2 separate regions of the Homo sapiens genome follow, and region 2 is linked to region 1. A link means that fine-mapping ties the variant in region 1 to the expression of a gene that starts in the linked region. Tissue or cell type: whole blood. Region 1 holds a variant in brackets; the other region holds the start of a gene. All regions are shown on one strand. Distances are from middle to middle.

Region 1 (5,209 bases):
TGGAGTTAAGGTAGAACAGTAGGTGCTCTTGGCTTTAAGAGTGCTAATCACTTTATCTTCTTAAGCTCATTAGAACTTCACAGTAACAGTAACACAAGGTGGATATCCCACCCCCATTTTATAGATGAGGAGACTGAGATTTGGAAAAGTTAAATACTTTGTGCAAAATCATTGAATAATAGAGATGATATTCAAACTCATGTCTGTGTGGCTCTTGAGATTCTTTTTTTTTTTTTTTTTTTGAGACAGGGTCTTGCTCTCACCCAGGGTGGAGTGCAGCGGTGCAATCTGTACGCACTGCAACCTCTGCCTCCTGGCTTCAAGGGATTCTCCCGTTTCAGCCTCCTGAGTAGCTGGGACTACAGGCGTGTGCCACCATGCCCGGCTAATTTTGGTATTTTTAGTAGAGACAGGGTTTCACCATGTTGGCCAGGCTGGTCTTGAACTCCTGACCTTAAGTAATCCACCACAGCCTCCCAAAGTGCTGGGATTACAAGCGTGAGCCACCGCACGCGCCCTCACGTTGAGATTCTTTGTGAAATTGCCGCAAGTTAAAATCTGAACCATAGCAAAGACCCTCTCCAAGACAGAAACTCAGTTTTTCACATAAACCTTAGACTTAAGTGCTATCTCTTATCACAGAGAGGCTTCTGTTGTAATGTGGGCATTAGTCATTTTTGATAATTCAGAAAAATCATTGCTACTATGAGCGTTGAGATGGATGAAATTTTTGCTGTAATTACCTGAATTGCATGCAGCCATTGAAATCTTCCTTAACTTGAAATGAAAAAGAACTTTAGAAAAACATGTTTTATCTGTCTCACCAGTTAAATGCTCTTAGTAGAGCTCTTCTAGTATTTTGTAGATTCTTTTGGAATCGTGCCTGTTTCACAGAGGCAGAGACATGCAAACCTTAGAATGGGAGTTGAGCTGTTTGAAGTCTGCCTTCATAAAAATGTCTTATTGCAGCAGTATATTGCTTTGCATGTAGTAGGCCTCTGGTATTGAATGAATGAATTGAGATCTGGGAGAAAAAGCTAAAGGAAAGGAGTTCATTTTGTCGTAACTGACTTTTTTTTATTATCCTTCATTTTTAATTACAGCATTTGTGGTTGATACAATTGTATGGGTTAGCTATGGCTTTATAGATAAGTAGATTTTGAGATGAAAGAAGGTTATACTTTTTAAGTTCTTATTTTAAAATCTCCACTGTTAAGAGTCAAAATCAAGTTTAAAAAGAATGTTGCAGCTCAATTATTTAAATTTAAATTTTTTATTTGGAAGTACTTAGTTTCACTGGAAGTTGAAAAAAAAAATGTATAGGAAGGTTCTGTATACCCTTCACCCAGTCTCCTCCAGTGGTAACATTTTACATAGCAGTTATGCAGAGATCAAAAATCAAGAAGTTGCCCTTGTTTCAATCCTCAGAGTTTATTAGGTTTCACCAGTTTTACATGCCCTTATTTGTGTGTGTGTGTTTTTTGCAATTTTATTAAATGTGTAGATTTGTGTAAGCACCATCATGATCAAGATACAGAACTATTCTCTCACCACATGAAGTTCATTTTTTTAGCTTACCTTATTTTGTAATGGAATCCCCCCGTCTTAAATCTTCTGGGTCAAATAATTCTCCATCTTGTGTTTGCTCAGATCTAGAGATAAAACACATCTTCAGGGTTCTTAAATTTAGACAGCTTCGGTTGACATGGTATGTGAGGTTCATATGATAATCGTGAGAGATAAACCTGCACTTTCATGGGAAAAGCCATGGATAGCAGTAGCAGAAGATAATTGGCAACAGATCTTTTCTGGATGTTGGAGGAGAGGCTTTGGAATAACAGTCTCATTGTGATGTTTTCTGCTTTTGTTATAGGTTTGCCATGAGCAGACTAATGATAATAACTAACATTTGTTACTGTATTCATTGGTTTTCACCGCAGCCCCTACTGTTATCTCTGCTTTAAAGATAAGGACATGGAAACTTAAGAAGGTTGAGTAACTAGTCTGAAGATGCACAGTGAATAAGTGATGGAGTTAGGATTTAAATGTGGGTAGACTGACCCTACAACTTGTATTCTTCTCCACAGTGCTGCTATTTAGCAGACACAGAAACTTTCATGAGTAAGAGTAGCAAGTTCTGAGTTTTTGACTTTTGAGCTTGGGGAAGATGTGCCTAGAAGGAATGAGTAAACAACGAGAAATTATATGAGGTGCACATTTTGAGTGGGGTATTTGGTGTCTAGGTTATTCTCACTCTACTAATCTGTATGACCTCAGGCAGTGCATCCCCTCTGTAGACCTTAGTTGCCTTGATCTCAGATGTATCCACATGGATCTGATTTTCTGTAGGAATTTCTCAAAGATTGTGAAGGCAGTGTGTTACTCTTTTGATTCTTT[C/T]GGTTATTTGACTCTTGTTGGAGTAGGTTCCCAATGCCAAGAAATTCTGGGTCTTGTGGCGATTTAATCTGGCCAACTACCAAATTATAGGTATTTGAGGATAGTTTTTCTCAGCTCTGGGATTTTTTTTCTTAAACTGCCTCATATCTATTGTTAAGTCCTCATGTCTGTTGTAAAAATTCAAAGGTGCTTTGTGTTTTTTCTGTTTTTTTTTTTTTGTCCTTGAGAGGACCATTTCATAGGAATTTGAAATGTTTTCTGTGAATTTGAGGAGCACTTATGGCCAGAATATGCTTTTGCAAAATACTCTAGTTGAGAGTTAGAAGTGTTTGGAGAGTTGAGGAGGTAGTAGTTATTTTTCAACAGAATGGAGCTAAGAATTTCAACTAAGAATGGAACTAAGGAACTAGGAGATCTTAAAGTCTCTTTGAGTATTAAGCATCTCCTTTCCGTCTCCACACTTGAGGCAACAGTCTAATTGGGGCAAATGGAAGAGAAATGCTTCCTGTAAGAGCTAGTGAGCAGAATCTGTATTTAATTTTTGAGAGTCCTTGAAATTAACAGATGGATCTATGGTCAAAAAAAATTGCCAACCATATTTCTTATTACATTATACATTATATATTATATATATTATATATACATTTTACATTATATATAATGTATATATAATGTATTTCTTATGTTATAACGTATTTCTTATTACATTATGTTATATATAATGTATTTCTTATTACATATGTTACATATAATGTATTTATTACATTATATATTATATATAATGTAATATATGTTATGTAATAATTATATATGTCATATATAATTTAATTATATGTCATATTTAATTATATATGTCATAATTTATATATGTCATATATAATTTAATTATATGTCATATATAATTTAATTATATATGTCATAATTTATATATGTCATATATAATTTAATTATATATGACATATATAATGTAATAATTATGTGTCATACATATATGTGTCATATATAATGTAATAATTATATGTGCCATATATAATGTAATAATTATGTGTCATATATAATGTAATAATTACATCATATATAATGTAATAATTATATATGTCACATATAATGTAATAATTATATATGTCACATATAATGTAATAATTATATATGTCACATATAATGTAATAATTATATATGTCACATAATGTAATAATTATATATGTCACATATAATGTAATAATTATATATGTCACATATAATGTAATAATTATATATGTCACATATAATGTAATAATTATATATGTCACATATAATGTAATAATTATATATGTCACATATAATGTAATAATTATATATGTCACATATAATGTAATAATTATATATGTCACATATAATGTAATAATTATATATGTCACATAATGTAATAATTATATATGTCACATATAATGTAATAATTATATATGTCACATATAATGTAATAATTATATATGTCACATATAATGTAATAATTATATATGTCACATATAATGTAATAATTATATGTCACATATAATGTAATAATTATATGTCACATATAATGTAATAATTATATATGTCACATATAATGTAATAATTATATATGTCACATATAATGTAATTATATATGTCACATATAATGTAATTATATATGTCACATATAATGTAATTATATATGTCACATATAATGTAATTATATATGTCATATAATGTAATAATATATGTCATATATAATGTAATAATTATATATGTCATATATAATGTAATTATATATGTCATATATAATGTAATTATATATGTCATATATAATGTAATTATATATGTCATATGTAATAATTATATGTCATATGTAATAATTATATATGTCATATATAATGTAATAATTATATATGTCATATATAATGTAATCATATGTCATATACAATGTAATAATTATATATGTCATATACAATGTAATAATTATATATGTCATATACAATGTAATAATTATATATATGTCATATACAATGTAATTATATGTCATATACAATGTAATTATGTTATATATAATGTAATAATTATATATGTTATATATAATATAATAATTATATATGTTATATATAATGTAATAATTATATGTTATATATAATGTAATTATATATGTTATATATAATATAATAAGTAGTAATTACTTATTATTTATAATTAGGTGTATTCTGAGAGTCTTGATCTTTGTTTTTCACATTTTGACATTTCATGCTCAGATTTTGAGACTACTTTGTTGACATTATTCAGGCAAAGTTTCAGTTAAAATGGAGTAGAAGTTTTTGTACTTTAATACCGAAGGGGTAGTAAAAGCAAGGGTGGTCAGATCTTGAAACTGGGGACAAAGACTGCTAGTATCAGCTAATATTTTCACACCCCTGCCCAAATGTCCCTCTTTAATGCAAATTGGAGTTAGTAGGTTCTCAACAAGAGAGTGGAGTTCCCCCTTGGGAACTGTCCTTGTCATGGGCCAGGAGTGGGGAATAGCAGGGGAAGGTGGTGGCAGACTAACTAGTAAGATTAGTTCTGGACACAGGGCAGAAGGAAAGAACACCGTAGGCTTGTGCCTTCTCTTTGTTTCCTTGTGTTCTTTAGTGCCCGCAGTCAGTCTCCTTGTTTTTTTTTTCTGGCCACAGGATAGTAAAGGGCAAAGTCCTGGAGGATGAAAAACAGTTCAGCACCCTCATTGAGTTTGTTGCCTTGATAGGTTAATTCTGATGTTGCAGCAGTCCCCTTTGTCACTAGAGCTTCTGAGACAGTTTCTAAAATTAGACTGAAAAAACATAGCTAC
Region 2 (4,000 bases), 66 kb before region 1:
GTGAAGTTATTGATGCTAAAGTAAAAGGGACTCTGGGTGACCAACAGTGTCACAGGCTGGAGGGTGGGCAAATGTTTGCTCTTCGGTCTGGGTTGGCCTGTTCTTTGCCCTTTGGGCTGGTGATAAGAGGGGGCAGGGAAGAAGTGGGAGAGAGACAGGGAGCACCAGGACCTGTTAGTTCTGGAGACTGGTATCCTGGGGACTGCATTCCCTGCTGTGGTGACCATTCCCCTCCTCCCCGCTGCTCTGGCTGGGGAAGGTCACTTTGTTTTGCCCCATGTTGTTAGGAGTCTCCTGTGATGCCTCCTTCCGGCCACCGCCCAGCCAGGGGAAATGTACCTGGCATTTTCGTCCGTCCACGCTCCTGAGGTCCTCCTCAAACTCCACTCCCACATCAAACTGCACAGTGTAGTTTCGGAAGGTGCTGAGCGTCCTCACCGTCATGTGGTTGCCCTGGTGTTCGATCTCCTTGTCCGGCTTCAGCAGCAGCGCGATCTTCCGCACAGCCAAGCTGATGTCTGTGGGGGCTGCCTGTTAGTAGGGGTGCTGCTAGCCAGCCAGGAGCTCCTCTGCCTGCAGCAGCCCCTCAGGGCTGTGAGTTTCCCTTCTTTGGGTCTGGGACTGTGGATTCACCCCCTCCTACCAATGCCTGGTTAGAAATGGATCCCAGGTCTGGTGCCAGCCGCCTGAGCCTTTCCACAGTGTCCAACCCCGGGCATTCCCTCTTCTCCATGGGACCAAGAAGCAGGAAGGAAGAGGGGAGAAAGGGAGTGACAGGGGTCTGGGAGGGCGAGGCCATTACTTAGGGCTTGCAGGTAGTCCTCCATGTTCTTCTGCGAGACAAAGCGGTAGTAGCCAGTGAGGTTGGGAGGCATTGTGTGGATGAAGGTTTCAGGAGAATGCAGGAGACAGGGTGAGGAAGGAGGGGGTGTTGTCTGGCAGGTGAGGCTGAGAGATTCCAGCCAGCTCCACACACAGAGACAGGATGTGTAATGGCCGGGTTACCAGGGCTTTTTATAAGGCTGGGGCCCTGTTGCAATAAGAGTCCCTACCAGACTTCTTCCCTCCCCGCATGGTGAGTTTGGGGGTGGTGTCTCCAGCCTGAAGGAGGGGCAGGGATTTGGCAAAGTTGCGCCTGACCTTGGCTTTTCCTGAGGAAGGAACCTGGAGCAGGATCCTTCCTGAGGAAGGAACCTGGAGCAGGATCTGGGGCTGTCAGTCATCCAAAACTCAGCCATCCAAAGGTCAGTGTTGGCCTCCACCTCATTTCTGGCAGGCTTGGGAACCGTCCCAGGGCCTGAGGGGCAGTCTTTCCTGGGAGACACCTGAGGCTGGTCTGGCTGTGTGAGGTGGAGATGAGTTCCAACAATATCCTGAGATCCTGGGACTGAGTGATGTTGGAAGATGTGAGGGGAGGGGGTGAGGATGGCCAGCTGCCACCATGAAGAGCACCCTGTAGGCCTGGCTCTCAGAGCTCCCTCAGGTAGTGTGCTCAACTGGGACCCCAAAGTGGCATTCCAGACTCTTGGTCCTAAAGAGCCATTAGGAGGGAGGTGGAGCCCGAGGGGTGCTGAGTTCAAAGTCCGGAACAGACAGCCTGAGAGGAGTTTGTTGGCTATTCTGGAGAATTTTATTCTTTTTGGCTTGGGACCCAGGGGGTTTTCTCTCCCTCTGAGTCATCGATGAGACCGTAACCCCCAGTCCCCAGCCCTAGGACAGCCCATGCTTTCCAGATGTATTTCTGTGAAGGTGGGGTGGAGGCGCCTAAATAATATTGTGCCCCGCCCCCAGCTGCCCAATTCTCTCTCGAACCTGCCATCGTCCCGGGCTTCAGAATCCACTGGGCTTGGTTCATCATGGTTTAAGGTGAAATTCGGGGCGAAGGAGGCAGGACAGGTAGGCAGGAGGAGGCGGCCGGTCCCGACAGGTGCGTGCGCGAGGGGTGCACGACGTCCTGCCCCTCCTTGGGTCCCAGAGCCTCGATACCGCCCTGCGGACCGCCCTGTGGCTTCCTCGCAGCCCTGGGCTACAAATGCCAGGATTTCTCAGGCTCAGACTGAGGGTTTTACTTCACCCTTCCCAGAGGGCACGCAGCACGGATCTGTGGATGGAAGGGGCTGTGGAAACAGGTTATGGCAGAGTTGGGGGGCGGGGTGACGCGGTGCCACCCCTCCTGGCCGCCCTCAGGTCCCGCTGACGTCTCTCTTCCCCACCCCCTGGCTTCTGGCTTCTTTCTCCCCACGTCCCTCTTCTTTCCCACCCCCTCCGTGGCTCTCCAGCTTCCTCCCCAGCCCCCGCAGTTCCTCGGCTCCCCCAAAATTGCAGCCAGGGGAAGGAGCCTTGAAACTCTCCAGCCCCGACGCCCCAGTCTCATTGGCTCCCTCCCCCGCTGCAGCACCTGGTCCCCCCCCCTCCCAGTCACCTGATTGGCCGGCGGCCCCATCAATCGTTGCCCGGCTGTGCTGACGTCATCCTGCAGTAGCGGGGTTGGGGTGGGAGTGAGAGAGTGAGGACGCTGGGCTGGGGGAAACGGGAAGCCGCTGCAAGTCCACCGCCTCAGCTACCCAGATTGGGATCTGCCCAGGCCCGCTTTATGGACTAGTGTGGGCGGCAGGCTCCTTTCCGTCCCTGCCCTGCTGTACCCCGCTCCTTGGAGACCCCCTGTATCCCTCCCGCAAGGTGGAATCCGCAGGCTGGAGGCTCCCAGGGGAGGCAAACGCCTGGCCCTGCCCTGCCCCACGCCGCACCATGACCCTCCTGCTGCTGCCCCTTCTGCTGGCCTCTCTGCTCGCGTCCTGCTCCTGTAACAAAGGTGAGTGAGGTGGGGGTGGGGGTACCGAAAGAGGGGCGTCGGGCAGCGCCGTGCGGGGTGGGGGTGGGAAGGAGGTGTCGAGGCTCCCTGGCACCTGACAGGTGTCTGGCCCTCTTCTGATCACCCTCCTTCCCATCCGTTCTCAGACCTGCTCCGTCTCCTCTCTTTCTCTTCCCCCAGCTACATCTTCCTTTCTGGTCCATCTCTACCCATGCGTTTCTCTTGCTGGTCATCTTGCTCCCATTTGGTCTCCATTCCCGTCCTGGGGTCTCTATTCTCCCCTTCCCCTAATTTCTACACGCTGGTGGCTACCTCGGGTCTGGGAAGGACTGCCCCCGAGCCGGTGATAGGCCTCTCCCCGCGGCTCTCCCTTTCACTGGCGCATGCTAAGGGTGTGTGGCAGATCCATCTGCTTCGCCTCCATCCCATCCTGGGGAGAAAGTATTTGCTGCAGTTCAGCAATTCGGAGCACGTATGTTTTTTGCGTGTGCCTCTGCATTCAGACCCTTTTGCCTGCATCAGCTGGGCTGTGGGTTACCAGAGCTGCCCTCTCTGGCAGACAGCGGATACATTCAGCTGGGCGGGGCTGTCGGACAGACGGAGAGGGAGGACGGGAGGGAGGGCTTGCGGGCAGAGGGCTCAGGTAGGTGGAAACGGATGGAGACTGGCAGGAAAGGGCAGAAGTGGGTGTGTGGGGGGCGCTAAATGAGTATGAGAGGGAAAGCTGAGAAGGAGAAGACCGGAGATGAGGCGTGGGAGGGGGTAAGGAGGGGATGGAAAAGGGTAAAGGTGGAGGCAGAAAAAAGAGGGAGGAATGAGGAAAATCAGGAAAAGAGTGAGTCAAGGAGGAGCCCGGGAGCCTAGGAGTGAAAGGGAGCAAACGCAGAGACCGCAGGGGGCCAGGAGGAGAGGAGACAGAGGCTCAGAGACCTGGGAAGACAAGCAGGGTGGGAGGGGGAGCTGTGCAGAGGGCGCCCAGCCCTGCCCTTCCACCGCTCTCTCTTCCTTGCCTGCATCTCTGACCTCAGCCTCGCCTCCTAGCCTCCTGCCACTTCCTGTACCGCCTCCTGTGCACCATCTTGTGGCTTTCTCCTCAGCATTCAGGAAGGGGTTATGGTGGTCATCAGTAAGAAAGCCTTCCCATGCCAAAGGCTTGCTGGTGTGTGGTTGGAGGAAAGAATGGAAATC

The links. PIP is the estimated chance that this variant, and not a neighbour inherited with it, causes the effect.
Region 2: CLSTN3 starts here. The variant in region 1 is fine-mapped to the expression of CLSTN3 in whole blood (TOPMed, PIP above 0.99).

Annotation. Positions count from the first base shown.
Region 1 is chr12:7,193,012-7,198,220 of GRCh38, forward strand. The region is part of intron 5 of PEX5 (peroxisomal biogenesis factor 5); the gene reads left to right. Among named protein-coding and RNA genes, the nearest start is that of PEX5, 5.9 kb to the left of the region's middle. The variant C/T (reference allele first, on the strand shown) is at 2,398.
Region 2 is chr12:7,127,901-7,131,900 of GRCh38, forward strand. CLSTN3 (calsyntenin 3) reads left to right here and starts at 2,471. Exons shown (of 18, transcript NM_014718.4): 1 at 2,471-2,812. The coding sequence starts at 2,749. RBP5 (retinol binding protein 5) reads right to left here and starts at 989. Exons shown (of 4, transcript NM_031491.4): 1 at 803-989; 2 at 340-518. The coding sequence starts at 875. RefSeq lists silencers at 2,228-2,327, 3,418-3,487 and an enhancer at 2,769-3,270.